2 separate regions of the Homo sapiens genome follow, and region 1 is linked to region 2. The links come from fine-mapping of genetic effects on gene expression. Tissue or cell type: whole blood. Region 2 holds a variant in brackets; the other region holds the start of a gene. All regions are shown on one strand. Distances are from middle to middle.

The links. PIP is the estimated chance that this variant, and not a neighbour inherited with it, causes the effect.
Region 1: it holds the start of ABCA1, and the variant in region 2 is fine-mapped to the expression of ABCA1 in whole blood (TOPMed, PIP 0.92).

What each region holds. Positions count from the first base shown.
Region 1 is chr9:104,924,054-104,932,158 of GRCh38, forward strand. It overlaps ABCA1 (ATP binding cassette subfamily A member 1), which reads right to left and starts at 4,102. Exons shown (of 50, transcript NM_005502.4): 1 at 3,882-4,102. It overlaps LOC105376196 (a long non-coding RNA gene), which reads left to right and starts at 2,736. Exons shown (of 3, transcript NR_188620.1): 1 at 2,736-3,857; 2 at 5,455-5,671. RefSeq lists silencers at 1-24, 2,496-2,735, 4,072-4,261 and enhancers at 3,412-3,471, 3,792-3,871.
Region 2 is chr9:105,101,119-105,109,223 of GRCh38, forward strand. All of the region lies in intron 1 of LOC105376197 (a long non-coding RNA gene), which reads left to right. Among named protein-coding and RNA genes, the nearest start is that of CT70, 110 kb to the left of the region's middle. The variant C/T (reference allele first, on the strand shown) is at 4,451.

The sequences.
Region 1 (8,105 bases), 180 kb before region 2:
ATGAATAAACACGTGAAAAACATTTCAAACAGTACTTGCCACACAGTGCTATATAAGTGTCTATTCAACACTGCAATAACTTTGGCCATTCATGGTTGTATCCACATGCAGATACGAAGATGGTTGCATTTTTTGGAGTAGGCCTTCTCTCAGCATAAACAAAACAAGTGTTCAGAATGATCTTTTAACATTTGATGCTAGAGTAAATGACCATAACAACTACTATAATGGTATTATTTATTTAATATCTGGATACTTAAAAAAATGTATTTGAGGCCAGGTGTGGTGGCTCATGCCTGTAATCCCAGCACTTTGGGAGGCTGAGGCTGGCAGATCACTTGAGGTCAGGAGCTTGAGACCAGCCTGGCCAACATGGTGAAACCCTGTCCCTACTAAAAACACAAAAACTAGCCGGGTGTGGTGGCACGCACCTGTAATCCCAGCTACTCAGGAGGTTGAGGCAGGAGAATCACCTGAACCTGAGAGGCGGAAGTTGCAGTGAGCCAAGATCATTCTACTGCGCTCCAGCCTAGGCAAAAGAGCAAGACTCCATCTCAGAAAAAAAAAAAAAAGAAAAAGTATTTGGTTTTAAAAGTATTTTAGAAATGCAAAAACCACATGCATTTTGATATTTTCTAGACATCTAGATATCTTCATAATTAGAAGAGTCTATCTAAGGTAATGTTCACTTATTCTAGCAGCTAAAAATGAAAACAGTGAAGACCTTAATTTGTAGCCACTACATATATAGCTTAAGTATCCCGGCTTACGGGAGAGAAGATCCCTTTAAAAAAAAAATTTAAATGGAAAAATATCCCAACCAACTCCTCTCCAAAAAGGTAAGTACTACAGAAGATAATAAAAAGCTAAGTCACTGAACTTCTTCAGTTTCATTCATTTTTTTATGTTTACAATGGGACTTCCTTGAGCAGAAGGAACCAATCCTTGAAAACAATCAATTCCTGATCACTCTTTTCCAATCCTGCACTAATGCACTGTCTCACACAAACCGAAAATATGTTCTAAGTCAAAATGTGTCCAGGGGTCGGGCGCGGTGCCTCACGCCTGTAATCCCAGCACTTTGGGAGGCCGAGGCGGGTGGATCAAGAGGTCAGGAAATCGAGACCATCCTGGCCAACATGGTGAAACTCTGTCTCTACTGAAAATGCAAAAACTAGCCAGGCATGGTGGCGTGCGCCTATAGTCCCAGCTACTCAGGAGGCTGAGGCAGGAGAATCTCTTGAACCCAGGAGGTGGAGGTTGCAGTGAGCCATATCGTGCCACTGCACTCCAGCCTGGGAAACAGAGCGAGACTGCATCTCAAAAAAAAAAAAAATGTGCCCAGGGTCCATTATAGGCCTGCACTCGTAGAAATACGAGGGTTGAGATTTCAAATGCTCATCTGCAGGGGAGACAACATATCACACGTGTCCAGGTTACAGTCAGATATGTCATTCTGGAACACTATGCGGGTGCTCAAATACAGACTCCTAAATTGCTCTGACAACAGTAGCAATTCTAGTCCCTTAAATGGCTTGTAGTCATCGTGAAGGCTGAAGACCCACTTCCCCGGTCCTTCTGATTGTAAACCAATGTTTTCCTAAAATTCCCTAGCATTAATTATTTTAATGGTTTGTGGAATTATTTAATGGTTTGTGGAAGCACTTGGGAAACAGGCTGACAATGGAAACTTTGTATTTGAAAAATATTGTAATATCTGTAGAGGTTCTACTCAGGAATACTTTCCATGCTTCCATACTTTCTCTGATTTAGGAGAAAGTTTCTCAAGAGAATGATACTCTCAACAGAAACGGAAAGTTTCTCAACAGAAAGCCTCCATTATTTTTGTGGTAGGTATGAGAAGAATAGGTTGAAATAAAAGGGGAGATGAAAACTTAAGGACTTTAAGTTTTGTTTGAAAAGAAGATCATAATTTAAGTCTGGGTTCTAAACTACGGCCGTTAAAAAAAAAAGAAAAAAAAATCAAGAAAATTCCACTCTTTAACTTGGGGGAAATTTTTGTGAGGTTCTCTTCGTGGGAAGCAGGGATTCGGCCATGGAGGGCAAGTGACTTGCTGATTTCAGTACCCAGAAGGTTTTTTTAAATATGAAATTTGTCCACTATGAGATGAATGTGTATATACTACCCATTCTCTTCTTGAAGTGTCAATGAAAAGTCGGATTTTAAAAGCTAATGGTATCAGTGCTGCAAAGGCAGGCCAATTACTGCCAGTGCCAGACAACTTTTTTCTTTGTTTATTTTTAATCTTATTTCTTTGCTTCTTTTTGATAAAAGATATACCTAAAGAGGCACCTACACATAACCCTGGCACCGTCCGCCGCCCCAAGAACCTTCCTGCTTTACCAATGGCCTGGGAGTTGGCAAACACGCTAACAAAAAAAAAAACCAAAAAAACAAAAAAAAAAAAACAAAACGGGCTTTCGCCTCAACCTCATAGTTCCTCCCCGTCTGCAACCACCGGTCTTCACCGGATTCACAGTCGGAACCGCGAGCAAAGACACCTAGTAGAGCCGGCCGATTCCTAGGTCCTCCGGCCAGGAGGCGCTGCGGGCCAGTCTCCGGGGGCCACCGCAGCCCGCGCGCCCAGCACCCCCACCCTCACGGCAGAGCCCAGCCCAGCCCCGCGGCGGAGCTCCGAGTTCTGCGCCGCCCGCCGGGGTTACTCCCGGTCATTCCACGGCACCACCTCGGCCCAGCTTCCCCATCTGCGCCCAGGCAGAAGCTGCCCCGAGAGACCAGCAGCAACGGTCTGGAAGATGGGGCTGCAGGGAACGTGGGAGAGGGAGGATTGGGCACCCCACCTCCGGGTCTCCGCAGGCTCTCCTAAGTCTTGTTTTTAAAAGAAACAAAACTCGGCCGCGCGCGGTGGCTCACGCCTATAATCCCAGCACTTGGGGAGGCCGAGGCCGGTGGATCACCTGAGGTCGAGGGTTCGAGACCAGCCTGGCCAACAAGTTGAAACCCCGTCTCTACTAAAAATACAAAAATTAGCTGGATGTGGTGACGCGCCTGTAATCCCAGCTACTCAGGAGGCTGAGGCAGGAGAATCGCTTGAACCCGGGAGGCGGAGGTTGCAGTGAGCGGAGATCGTTCCATTGCACTCCAGCCTGGGCGACAGACCGAGACTTAAAGGAAAGAAAAAAAAGAAAAAGAAAAGGAAACAAAACTCGTCCGCGCTCTGCGCCAGGGACACCAGCTCAGCTGAGCGCACGGAGACTGTAGGCAGGACCTCCCTACCCCTCAGGTCAAACAAAGACCCAAGGCCTCTAGTGAGCAATAGCACCACGGACCGTTTGGGACACCTCCAACTCGAGTTCCCGGATTCACAGTCCGGGACTGTGCCGCTCCAGTCCCGGGGAGCATATAGCCAATTCCCAGGTCAGAACAGACCAGCTTCTTAAGAACCGAGTGAAGACTCAGTGCTGGCATTTGTCTCCGTAGGTACTGGCCGACCTGCAACCAGAAGGGTTTCTAGCCAGCTCAGGGCCCTCCGAACAAAGCAGCGCTCGGTGCCGGACCTGCAGCTCTCCCCACCCGGCAGCAGCGCCCTCAGCACGCCCGGGAACCCCCGACCCCTCTGAGCCCGGGGTACTGCGCCCGGGTCTCCACGCCCAGAGATGCTCCCCGGTCTCCACCGTCGGGCAAGCCCCAAGCGCAGCAGCGCAGAGTCCTGGGGTCACCAGAGCTCGTACTAGGACATCGTCTCCCCATTTAACACCGCCTCCGGTCCCATCTGAGTTGCAAGTGGTGGGGATGTGGGGCTCCGGATCAAAGTCCCCGAAACCGAGCACTTCCCGAAGCCTCCTTGGCCTCGAAACAAAACAATAACGCCCAAGTAAGTCACTGGAGAGCCTCTTACCTGTTTTCCACTTTTGTGTTTGCGTCTCTTTCTCCTACCCCTTGACAAGCCTTCCGGAGAAGGGGAGAAAACAGAACCGGGGAAAAAACAAGGAGCAAAGCGCCCTGAGAACCGGCTCTGTTGGTGCGCGGAGCTCCCCGCCCTGCCCTGCCGCAGCCCGGGAGAGAAGGGTCGGCTCGGCTCTGCGGGTCCCGGCCCCACTCACTCTCGCTCGCAATTACGGGGTTTTTGCCGGGACTAGTTCCTTTTATAGATTCGGCTGCACCGAGCGCAGAGGTTACTATCGGTCAAAGCCTGTGCTCTCCCTCCTCCCCGCCCCGTTCCCGGCCTCTGTTTATGTAGTTCAGTCACTCAGCAGAAAGCACGTGGAGCCGGGGCCCGCCCCTTAAACGGGCGACGTTCAGCCGCCCACGACACATCTAGGGAGTTGGGGGGAGGTGGGTGGGGTGGGGGTGGAGGGTACAGCAGGTGTCTTAGGGTCCGCGGTCTGCGTCCCCTTCCCCCGCCCGGGCCCGCCGGCCTAAGACGCGCGGGAAGCGCTGGGCTCGGGGCTGCGCCGCAGACTCTCTAGTCCACGTTCCCGGCAGCCAAGGGCACCAGTGGAATTTGCTTCCTCTAAATCCTGCTTTCCGCAATTTTTTTTTCCTTTGTTAGTTTCCTCAGCCGGAGGGAGGGATTGGGGGAGAGAGAGCTCTAGGCTGAATCTCCCTCAGGACGCCAATCATTTTGTCTTGTCTTTTGTTTCCTTTCAAAGGCCTAGGCTGGGGTGAGGGGAAGGCGGACAGTCCTCTGGGTAATGGGCTGCTTTTGTTTTCCCCCCACAAACCTGGACTTTGATTTTTGATAGGCGACCTACTGCCTTGGAGATTCCCAGCCTGAGCTCCCCAGGTCCCTCAGAGGACCCGAGAGGAACATCTTACTGCTTCTCTTCATAAATTGAGAGGAAGGAGGCCACAAAAACAAAAAAAGAAACAAACAAACAAAAACACAGAACAATATGGACCAGCCCCCTTTTAATTTCATTATATTGATCAGCCTCCCTGTGATAAAAACACAGGACTTGTATTTAGTTTGTATACATTTGTGAAGTGCAGCCAGAGAATTGCAGTCGTGTAAAATTATGTAGCCACTCCAGACCTCCAACTTATCTGTTTGCCTTTGGCTGTAGGGGAGCAAAACTACCCAAAACACTGGAGGGGCAAAAAAAAAGGCAAGAGTAGGAATGCAGGCCTACACACCATATGTCTAAATATTTAAGTCATCCATCAAGCCAACAAACTAAATGTCACCTTATTCTGGCCAAAACTCAGGTCAAACTGTGAAGAGTCTAAATATGAATCTGCCCTGAAGGGCAGATTCATAGAAGACTCAGGACAGACCCGTAGAAGAGGCCCAAGCAGGCCCTGGAAGTGCACGTGGAGGCCACAAGGTCTCCTACCTTGACAAAGATACCTTTGTAGCCACCTTGAAGGGCAGATTCACATTTAGACTCTTCACAGTTTGACCTGAGTTTTGGCCAGAATGAGGTGGCATGAGAGAGCTGCCCCAAGCCTACTTCTCTTCCCACCTCCAGCTCCATCATATTCCAGAACTCCCACCACCTGCATACAGACATTCAGCTGCACAAGCCCCCTCCATGCTACAGTCAACAGGATCTCCAGGCCACGGCTCAAGCCCAGGTACTCACATCAGTGGTTCTATCAACACTCAGGACAGACCCATAGAAGAGGCCCAAGCAGGCCCTGGAAGTGCATGTGGAGGCCACCAGGCAAGGAATTCTGGAGTCCCAGGTACTCATAACTCTGGGTGGCATGGCCCCTTTGCACCATGGACTGTTTGCCCTTAGAAAGGGATGGATCTGAGCTGGGCGCAGTGGCTCATGCCTGTAATCCCAGCACTTTGGGAGGCCAAGGTGGGCAGCTCACCTCAGGTCAGGAGTTCGAAACCAACCTGGCCAACATGATGAAACCCAGTCTTTACTAAAAATACAAAAATTAGCCAGATGTGGTGGCGAGCGCCTGTTATCTCAGGAGGCTGAGGCAGGAGAATCGCTTGAACCCGGGAGGCAGAGGTTACAGTGAGTCGAGATCATGCCACTGCACTCCAGCCTGAGTGACAGAGCAAGACTCCGTGTCAAGAAAAATAAAAAGAAAGGGATGGATCTCAGAAAGGCCAGAGATGAGCTTTCTAAAGCCCAAGGCCCAGGAGAGCGGACCCCCTTGCCTCAGTCAAAGAATAACCTTGGTCAATAAATTGGGTTTTGGGGTCAAACTTGACAACCACATGATGAGCAATTTACGTAAAGTCTTTCTGCCTCTGTTTCATCTTGTTTTTTTCTTTTTTCATCTTTTTTTCCTTCCTTCCTTCCTTCCTTCCTCCCCCCCTCCCTCCTCCCCTCCCCTCCCCTCATCTCCTCTCCTCTCCTCTTTCTTTCTTTCTCTTTCATTTCTTTTTTTTGAGACAGGGTCTTGCTCTGTCTACCCAGGCTGGAGTGCAGTGATCCAATCATGGCTCAGTGTAGACTTGACTCCCTGGGCTCAAGCGATCCTCCCACCTTAGCCTCCCAAGTAGCTGGGACCACAGGTGCATGCCACCACACCCATCTAATTTTCGTATTTTTTTTGTAGAGACAGGGTTTTGCCATGTTATCCAGGCTGGTCTCAAACTCTGGAGCTCAAGCGATCCTCTGGCCTCAGCCTCCCAAAGTGCTGGGATTACAGGCATTAGCCATTGTGCCCGGCCTGTTTCTTCATCTTTAAAATGGAGAGAAGATGTATATTCTGTCTTCCTCAAAGGGGTTTTCTGAAAGTGAACTTTGTTGAAACCTTTGAGCTCCTTGGCAGAATGATGTTATAAAAGCAGAGAGTGTTATTAAAAGGTGTTATCTTTCCTAGCATGATTTTAGAGAGTAATTAGATCTCCCTGACCCTCCATCTCCTCTCTCCTTCTTCTCCTACCTATTTGAAGTCGACCACCAAAATCATTATTTTTTTTTTAATTGAGATGGAGTTTCACCTTTTGTTGCCCAGGCTGGAGTGCAATGGTGCGATCTGGGCTCATTGCAACCTCCACCTCCCGAGTAGCTGAGATTACAGGCACCTGCCACCATGCCCGGCTAATTTTTTATATTTTTTAGTAGAGACGGGGTTTCACTATGTTGGCCAGGTTGGTCTCAAACTCCTGACCTCAGGCGATCCACCTCAGCCTCTCAAAGTGCTGGAATTATAGGTGTGAGCCACTGTGCCCAGCCCAAAATCATTCTTTTTGGAATTTTGAAGCATATAATTCCAAAAGGTATGAAGGTAATCACTTAGATTGCTCTAATAAGGGAATGGGAACAGTTAAGTCCTATACAAATAAGACAAAGATAAGATACTACAAAAAGGGGATGAGCCCAAGAAAAAAATCAAAGTCCCAGAGAGAGAACAGCCATTGATTCTAAATACACAAGTCTATGGCCCCAACCCAAACTTGTTTCACTAAGAACAACCTGTGGTTTCGAGAATCTGGTCATCCCCCACAGTGAATACATGAACACATTGTAATGTTTGAAATGTTTATTTTTCTTGTTGATTTCTTACTGTTAGAAGAGCTAAGTGATTTGGCCCAAAGTGGCTAAGTGATTCGGCCAGTTTGTACACAGGGATATAAGTTTGCTGACACCAAGCTCATACTTTACAAATGTAATATCTTCATAAAACAAAAATACTGGGCCGGGCGCGGTGGCTCACGCCTGTAATCCCAGCATTTTGGGAGGCCGAGGCGGGCGGATCATGAGATCAGGAGATCGAGACCATCCTGGCTAACAGGGTGAAACCCCGTCTCTACTAAAAATACAAAAAATTAGCTGGGCATGGTGGCAGGCGCCTGTAGTCCCAGCTGCTCGGGAGGCTGAGGCAGAAGAATGGTGTGAACCTGAGAGGCAGAACTTGCAGTGAGCCCAGATCACACCACTGCACTCCAGCAGAGCAAGACTCAAAAATATATATATACTGAATCTCAAAAGCTAGAGCCTAAGAGATGCCCCTTAAAAAAGAAGCTTACAAGTGTGAATTTTCTTCCCTCCAGCCCTTAGGTTGGTTTGTCTTTTAGTATATTTCAATAAGCTTCCCCCTCCCCATCCCATCCCTGCCCCCCACACCAACACCAAAACCCCAAGTCCCTCCTCTAGGTGACTCCTTCCAAATACATAGGAAGGCCCTCCTTTGTTGCTGTTTTTCTGGA
Region 2 (8,105 bases):
CTTGACACATAAAATACCAATAAATTGGCTGGGTGCAATGGTTCACACCTATAATCCCAACACTTTAGGAGGCTGAGGCGGGCAAATCAAGTGAGCCCAGGAGTTTCACACTAGCCTGGGCAACATAGCAAGACACCCACACCCCTTACCTCATCCCCATCTCTAGATAATTTTTTTTGTTTGTTTGTTTTTGTTTTTGTTTTTTTGAGACGGAGTCTCACTCTGTTGTCCGGGCTGGAGTGCAGTGGCACAATCACAGTTCACTGCAACCTCTGCCACCCGGGTTCAAACAATTCTCCTGCCTCAGCCTCCCGAGTAGATGGGATTACAGGCACCTGCTACTGTGTCTGGCTAATTTTTGTAGTTTTAGTAGAGACAGAGTTTCACCATCTTGGCCAGACTGGTCTTGAACTCCTGACCTCGTGATCCACTCGCCTTGGTCCCCCAAAGTGCTGGGATTACAGGCGTGAGACACCGCACCTCGCCAACAAAAAATTTTTTTTTAATTAGTCAGGTGTGGTGGTGTATACCTGTAGTCCCAGTTTCTCTGGAGGCTTAGGTAGGAGGATTGCTTGAGCCCAGGAGGTCTAGGCTGCACTGAGCTGTGATTGTACCACTGCACTCCAGTCTGGGCAATGGAGCAAGACTCTGTCTCAAAAAAAGAAAATCAATAAATGGCAGATTTGTCTTTAACTTCAACAACCTTTTAAAGTGTTTTGACAGAAGATAAACGATGAACCTCTGTGTTTATGGCTACCCCATCTCATTATAAAGCAGGGGTCCAGCTATGGCCCTTACATCAAATCCATTCCACTCTTGTTTTTATAAAGTTTTATTGAAATACAATCACACTCATTAATTTACATACTGTCTATGGCTGCTTTCACCCTACAGTGGCAGAACTGAATCACTATAATAGGGACCATATGGCCTGGAAAACCTAAAATACTGACTATCTTCTTTACCAAAAAAGGTTGCCAACTTCTGCTATACATCATTATGAAGTTTTTAAGATTAAAGTTTCTGTTTTCACAAAATTTATCACACCTAAAATTCCTGGAATTTTAGTTATTATGGCTCTAACTTCTTTGCTACAGTAACTGCATATGAATGATGCGGTCATTAAATTTCACTTATGCTCTATTCCTCTAGCCTTATCCCTCTTGTATTTAAGAAGTAATTATAATTATAATTGAAGGTATAATTATATCTTAATATAGCCCCTCCAAGATACATTTTTCTTAATGGCGATAGAGAGAATTGTTTTCTATGTATTTCAATATTGAACCAGAATCCAGCAAGTATCATAAATTGAGTCAAGTTAGAAATATCTGTACTTTCATCCAATTATATCAGAAACCTTCCACGATGTCAAATCTACCCTAATGCTTGTTTCCTCAGATCTTCAGCAATCTTTTCTATGCATTTTCCAATGATATTTGCTGACAAAGGAACACATTTTTCTTATTATTTCTGCCAAGTTTTACCAGGGCAGAAGAACACATATTTCTCTAATAGTATGTAGCTTTTTAACCTCTGCTGTTAAGCTAAAATCTATAAAGTTAGTGAAATTAAGTGAAATTGAGCAGTGCCTGATTAAAACATCCCTGTAAAAAAGCTGTAAGATTGGACTGCATACTCTAGATGCTTCATTTCTAAATGTTATGATAACCATGACAATTTTATGGATAAAACTCAAGCACAAGATACACTTTGGGGCAATGTTCATTGTCAGTGATGTTAGACTTAAATCCACAATTCAAACAGGGCTCCATGATAATGTCTAATTTTTTCGACACCTCTTGTCAGATCTCACTAGATATCATTGTTTTATCTCTTAATGTGGCAGACAAAGAGCTCATAACAGAGCAGAAATGTTTGTTTTGCCATTTTCTCATTGTTTCCTTATGCTTCCATTATAGGTATTGTCTTAAATTTACAATGTCATTACAGGTATCTTTTTAAGCTTTTTGTTCATTTTGTGAAAGTTACTTTAGTTCAAACTAGATAATGCATTTTTCTTAGAATCCACACTGGCCCAAGTAAACTGCAATATATCACAGGATGCTGAGAGCCAACACCCAGAAGAAGACAACTCAGTCAAGTCCTCCATGTTGTGGAAGCCCCACTCTTCCCTTAGAGAACTCATGAACTATTCTTGACATTTGACCTATGTGAAGACACAAATATCAACCTGTATATTAGATATTGGCAACACAATTTTTCTTTTAGAGGTCATAATAATTTTTTATATGGTGCGTTGCCATACACATTCTACACTGGAGACCACGATACTATACAATGATTTTGCCATTTTATTTTATTTTATTTTATTGAGACAGAGTCTCACTGTGTCACCCAGGCTGGAGTGCAATGGTGCGATCTTGGCTCACTGCAACCACTGCCTCCCAGGTTCAAGCAATTCTCCTGCCTCAGCCTCCCAACTAGCTGGGACTACAGGCGAATGCCACCATGCCCGGCTAACTTTTGTACTTTTAGTAGAAACAGGGTTTTGCCATGTTAGCCAGACTGGTCTCGAACTACTGACCTCAGGTGATCCACCTGCCTTGGCCTCCCAAAGTGTTGGGATTACAGGTGTGAGACACCGTGCCTGGCCAATTTTGCCATTTCAAAAAGCACAATACTTAAAGGAGGTGAGAGTTATTCTGCTAATACAGTAAGGTATTATATTAGGTTGGTGCTCAGCAAGTATCCAGTTGCTTATTGAGTACTTACCATATACCAACATACACACACACACACACACACACACACACACGAGTATATCAGGTGCTATGAGTGTTACCAAGATGAATCAAAATAAATCAGACATGAATTGCATTCAACTCCAGTCATTCACTAATTTATTCATCCACTAAGCAAACAATTACTGGGTGCCTTCAAGTTCCAGGGACAGAGTGAGTCACTATGGATTGGTGTCTTCGTGACTTCCACTTCAGATATGGCAAACTATTTATCCAACTTGAATTAGCTTGGATAGATTGTTCATTATTATAGTAACTTTTCATATTTTGGCGTCCTAGAGTTTGTTCTCCTATCCTAATAGCACTCCAGTTTCCTATTGGATAACACACTTTCCCCCACTGTGAGACAGTGAACCAAGCTGAAACTACAGGGTCAAAGACACCATGAATAAGGAGAAATTTATTCTCTGCAGGGAGAAAGCCAGAATTAAAAGAAGCAGAGATGAAAGATGAAAGGGTCTTAGGAAAAGAACAGCCTTATTTCCTTACTTTCTATCTACCTTTTATAGACCTTCTGAGGCCCAACTATGTATACCTTATTTCTTCTTCATAAATGTCTATAACATGGCCTCACTGTCCTGGACATTAGTTGTTATAGCCATATAATAAATGTACCATTTTACTTGGGTTAATTTTAGTGAGTTTCTCTTCCTTGCAACCAAACAGTTCCTGAGAATAATTTGGTCCCAGGAAGAGGCATTGCAAACGAGCACTAAGAGGAAACTAGGAATGATTGTTGTAGAACTGTGATACTCTCTTCCCTTCCCATCACCACCTTCCACCCCAGATAAAAAAGTTGGAGGTGTGAGATCTGAGATATAGAGTTTGAGAATCAGCTGATTAAACTTTAATCTTCAGTCTCCATCTCCATGTAACTTTAAGAAGAGTATCTTGAGATAGAGGAAAGATAAAACTCATTTCCAGATTGCCTGGCTTGAAATAGATTAGGGGGAAAAGAACACTCTGGGGGACTGGTAGAATCCATTTATTGCTATCCCAGCTTGGGGGATCTGGTAGTCTTAGTTAAGCCATCTAAGTACAGGTGTGAAAACTCTTTCCCATCATTTCTCTGAGGGTCTAGGAGTCATCTTTAGTCTAACAAAGAGGAAAGGTATTTTGGTAGAAATACCGTAAGAGGTAATTGGCCAGTGGCAGAAATAGATATATGCTTCAAGGTGAGCATTGCTTCTACAGGAAGGAAAACTATTAAGGAGACCTGATGTAAAATGAGCAAGGTTTCCTGAAGGGTGAATACCTGATCTTCAGAAGCCAGGGGATAAGTAATATAAGGCGTTCAATCTTGTGAAAACTGCAGTCAGCTGGCAAAGTTTCTAATCCAATATGACTCCGGGGGCACAAAGACAAGGCTTATTATGGACATCTTCTCAATTCACTTGTCCAGATTTTTCAGGTGGTGACCCCAATCCTGAGCCACTTTTCTGACTGTGGATCAATGGTCCCTCTTACTTTCTCACTATATCCCTTTCATCCTTTCACACTTGAAGGTTTATTCCTTCTTCCTTCCCTCCCAATTCCCCATCAGAGTCCTTAATGAGTTGACTCAGGATCATCAGTAAGAACTTTGATGGCCAATGAAAAACCAAAGCAGGGTAAAAAAAAGTAAGCAATGAGCAACAAATAGTAGCCCTTTCTCAAGAGCATGGAAGCATTTTTGAAACAATAGT[C/T]TTCAAAACACTATTGCCTAAATCTTCACTTCCTGGAAGGAAAGGGAGGTTAGACAGAGGACAGATAGATAGGTAGGTAAATAGAGACAGAGATAGACATTAAGAAATAGGTGTAGATTGTCTTAGTACAGTTTGTGTTGTTATAACAAAACACCTGAAATTGATAATTTTTTTTTTTTTTGAGACGGAGTCTCGCTCTGTTGTCCAGGCTGAAGTGCAGTGGCACAATCTTGGCTCACTGCAACCTCCACCTCCCAGGTTCAAGCGATTCTCCTGTCTCAGCCTCCCAAGTAACTGTGATTACAGGCATGTACCACCATACCCAGCTAATTTTTTTATTTTTAGTAGAGACAGGGCTTCACCATTTTGGCCAGGCTGGTCTCGAACTCCTGACCTCAGATGATCCACCCCGTCTCGGCCTCCCAAAGTGCTGGGATTACAGGCATGAGCCACTGTGCCCGGCCATGAAACTGGTAATTTATTTTATTTATTTATTATTATTTTTATTATTTTTTGAGATGGAGTCTCACTCTGTCACCCAGGCTAGAGTGCAGTGGTGCAATCTCAGCTCACTGCAACCTCTGCCTGCCAAGTTCAAGCAATTCTCCTGCCTCAGCCTCCCAAGTAGCTGGGACTACAGGCACGTGCCATGATGCCTGGCTAATTTTTTGTATTTTTAGTAGACACGGGGTTTCACCATGTAAGCTGGTCTCGAACTCCTGACCTTGTGATCCACCCATCTCAGCCTCCCAAAGTGCTGGGATTACAGGTGTGAGCCACTGTGCCCTGCCTGAGACTGGTAATTTATAAAGAACAAAAATTTACTTTCTCCCAGTTCTAGAGGCTGGAAAGTTCAAGATCATGGCACTGGCAGGTTCAGTTTTTTTATGAGGGCTGCTCTCTGCTTTCAAGATGACACCTTGTTGCTGCATCCTCCAGGGGGAGAAACACTGTGTCCTTACATAACAGAAGGTAGAAGGACAAGTGAGTCCAATGCTATTTGAAGCTTCTTATATAACAGTTTTAATCTCATTCATGAGAGGAGGACCGCTCATGATTTAATTACCTCTTAAAGGTCTCACCTCTTAATACCATCACATTGGCCATTAAGTTTCAATACCTGAATTATGGAGGGGACACATTCAAACCACAGCATGGACATACAGATTCTATTTTAAGGAAGGTAGCCACTGCTTTAAAGTAAGATGAATGATTTCTTCTAGTTCCAAATAGTTCAAAAAAAGACAGTCTGGTTTTTTTTTGTATTTTTTTTTTGAGATGGAGTCTTGCTCTTCTGCCCAGGCTGGAGTGCAGTGGCACGATCTCGGCTCACTGCAACCTCTGCCTCCCAGGTTCAAGTGATCTTCCTGCCTCGTCCCTCCTAGTATAGGCATGCGCTACTATGCCTGGCTAATTTTTGTATTTTTAGAAGTGACAAGGTTTCACTATGTTGGCCAGGCTGGTCTTGAACTCCTGATCTCAGGTGATCCACCTGTCTCGGCCTCCCAAAGTGTTGGGATTACAGGTGTGAGTCACCACACCCGGCCAAAAACAGGCTCTTTGGGGACAAGGTAAAAAAAAAAAAAATACAGGCGTGAGCCACTGCGCCCGGCCCTTTTTTTCCTCTTTTCTAAATTAAAGTTTTTTATTGTATTACATTCCTCAATTAAACATGGGTCGCTGAACCGAGAGAAGTCATATTCAAAGCAGCCCAAGAAGAAGAAAGATCCCCCAGAACTTTGGACTTGGAGCTTAACCTGCTGTTAAATACATCAAATTGTTTTGCTGTGGGAAAGGGGGTGAATATATTTTAGGTATCTGTATGAGGGCTGTGTGATTTCCAGGAACTGTCTTGGAATACTATTATGGGAGGAGAGTTTGTATTAGACTAAGCAGTCAAGGGGTAGACTGTAGCAGACTGTGGTTACTTACTTTTCCTCCCAGGAAGCTTTCACTTGTTCCTCCTGTTAAGAGATTCCATTATGCTGGCCACACACTGGGTAAATGATGCAGGTCTGGCCAATTCCCTTGGCAATAGCGATAGTTCAAGGGGAAGCATGCAACACAAGCAAAATCAATGAGAACCTTCATCAGGATTAAAATAGAGACTTGGGAAGAAAGATGTTTTTTCTCTTCTCTGGGGTTCCTAAGCTAGGACTACCAAAAGCCACGTCCATATGGAGAAGCAAGAGAGAATGACACCAACATGAACTGAAGAGCAAACACAAGTAATGATGATCATGAGAACAGGAGAAAAAACAAGTTTGTCATAGGGAGGCCTCAGTGCTAGCCCCTGAGATCATGGTTCTTCCTTTAGTTCTGTAAACTACTCCATTCCTGCTCTGTGCTCTAGTAACAACCACCCCCTTTTCTGCAGAGTCTAGTTTAAATTGGGTTTCCATCACTTTAAAGAGTCCTGACAGGCCAGGCGTGGTGGCTCGTGCCTGTAATCCTAGCACTTTGGGAGGCTGAGGCAGGTGGATCACCTGAAGTCAGGAGTTTGAGACCAGCTTAGCCAACATGGTGAAACCCTATCTCCACTAAAAATACAAAAATTAGCTGGGCATGGTGGCACATGCCTGTAATCCCAGCTACTCAGGAGGCTGAGGCATGAGAATTGCTTGAACCTGGGAGGTGGAGGTTGCAGTGAGCCAAGATCATGCCATTGCACTCCAGCCTGGGCAACAAGCAAGACCCTGTCTCAAAAAAAAAAAAAAAAAAAAAGAAAAAGAAAAAAGAAAAGAAAAGAAAAAAAGAGTCCTGACTAATACATGCCCAGAACCGTGGGGAACACAGAGGGATAATTTAACACAAATTTAGGACTTTTGTTGTTGACATTGTTATTATTATATTTTTTTAACTGTAATACAAGCCTAGGGTAAAAATTCAAACAGTATAAAGAGGTATATTATCTAATTATAGAATAAGTCTTCCTCCTAGAACCCTGCTTCAGAAGAAAAAAACCTGTTAACAGCTTCTTTTGTATCCTTCCAGAAATTTTCTTGAATTAAACTTATAGCACACTGAAGGATCAAGGAGAGAATGAAGCGAGTGAGATATATTACTCTCAGATCTAGCTCAACAAAGCAGATATATCAATATTATGTCATTTTTCCCCTTTTCTGATTATACTTGGTTTAAATTTGCAGTTGTAAAATTGCCTGTGAATGTCTACATTTTATATTTTTAAGTAAAAGCCCAACAGGGAAAAACTAACTAATGAGTTTTGTTTTGTCATCATGTAGGGCTTTTACAACATAGTTTAAAACACTCAACATCTTGAAACAATTAACAAAATCATTCACCTTCACAGAAAGTTGGTTTGTTTTTTAAGGCCTATAAACATAGAGGAACTTTTATTTTATTTTATTTTATTTATTATTTTTTTTTTGAGACAGAGTTTCACTCTTTTGCCCAGGCTGGAGTGCAATGGCGTGATCTCAGCTCACTGCAATCTCCGCCTCCCGGGTTCAGGCAATTCTCTTGTCTCAGCCTCCCAAGTAGCTGGGACTACAGGTGGCCACTACCACGCCCAGCTAATTTTTGTATTTTTAGTAGAGACGGGGTTTCACCATACTGGCCAGGCTGGTTTCAAACTCCTGACCTCAAATGGTCCAGCCACCTTGGCCTCCCAAAGTGCTGGGATTACAGGCGT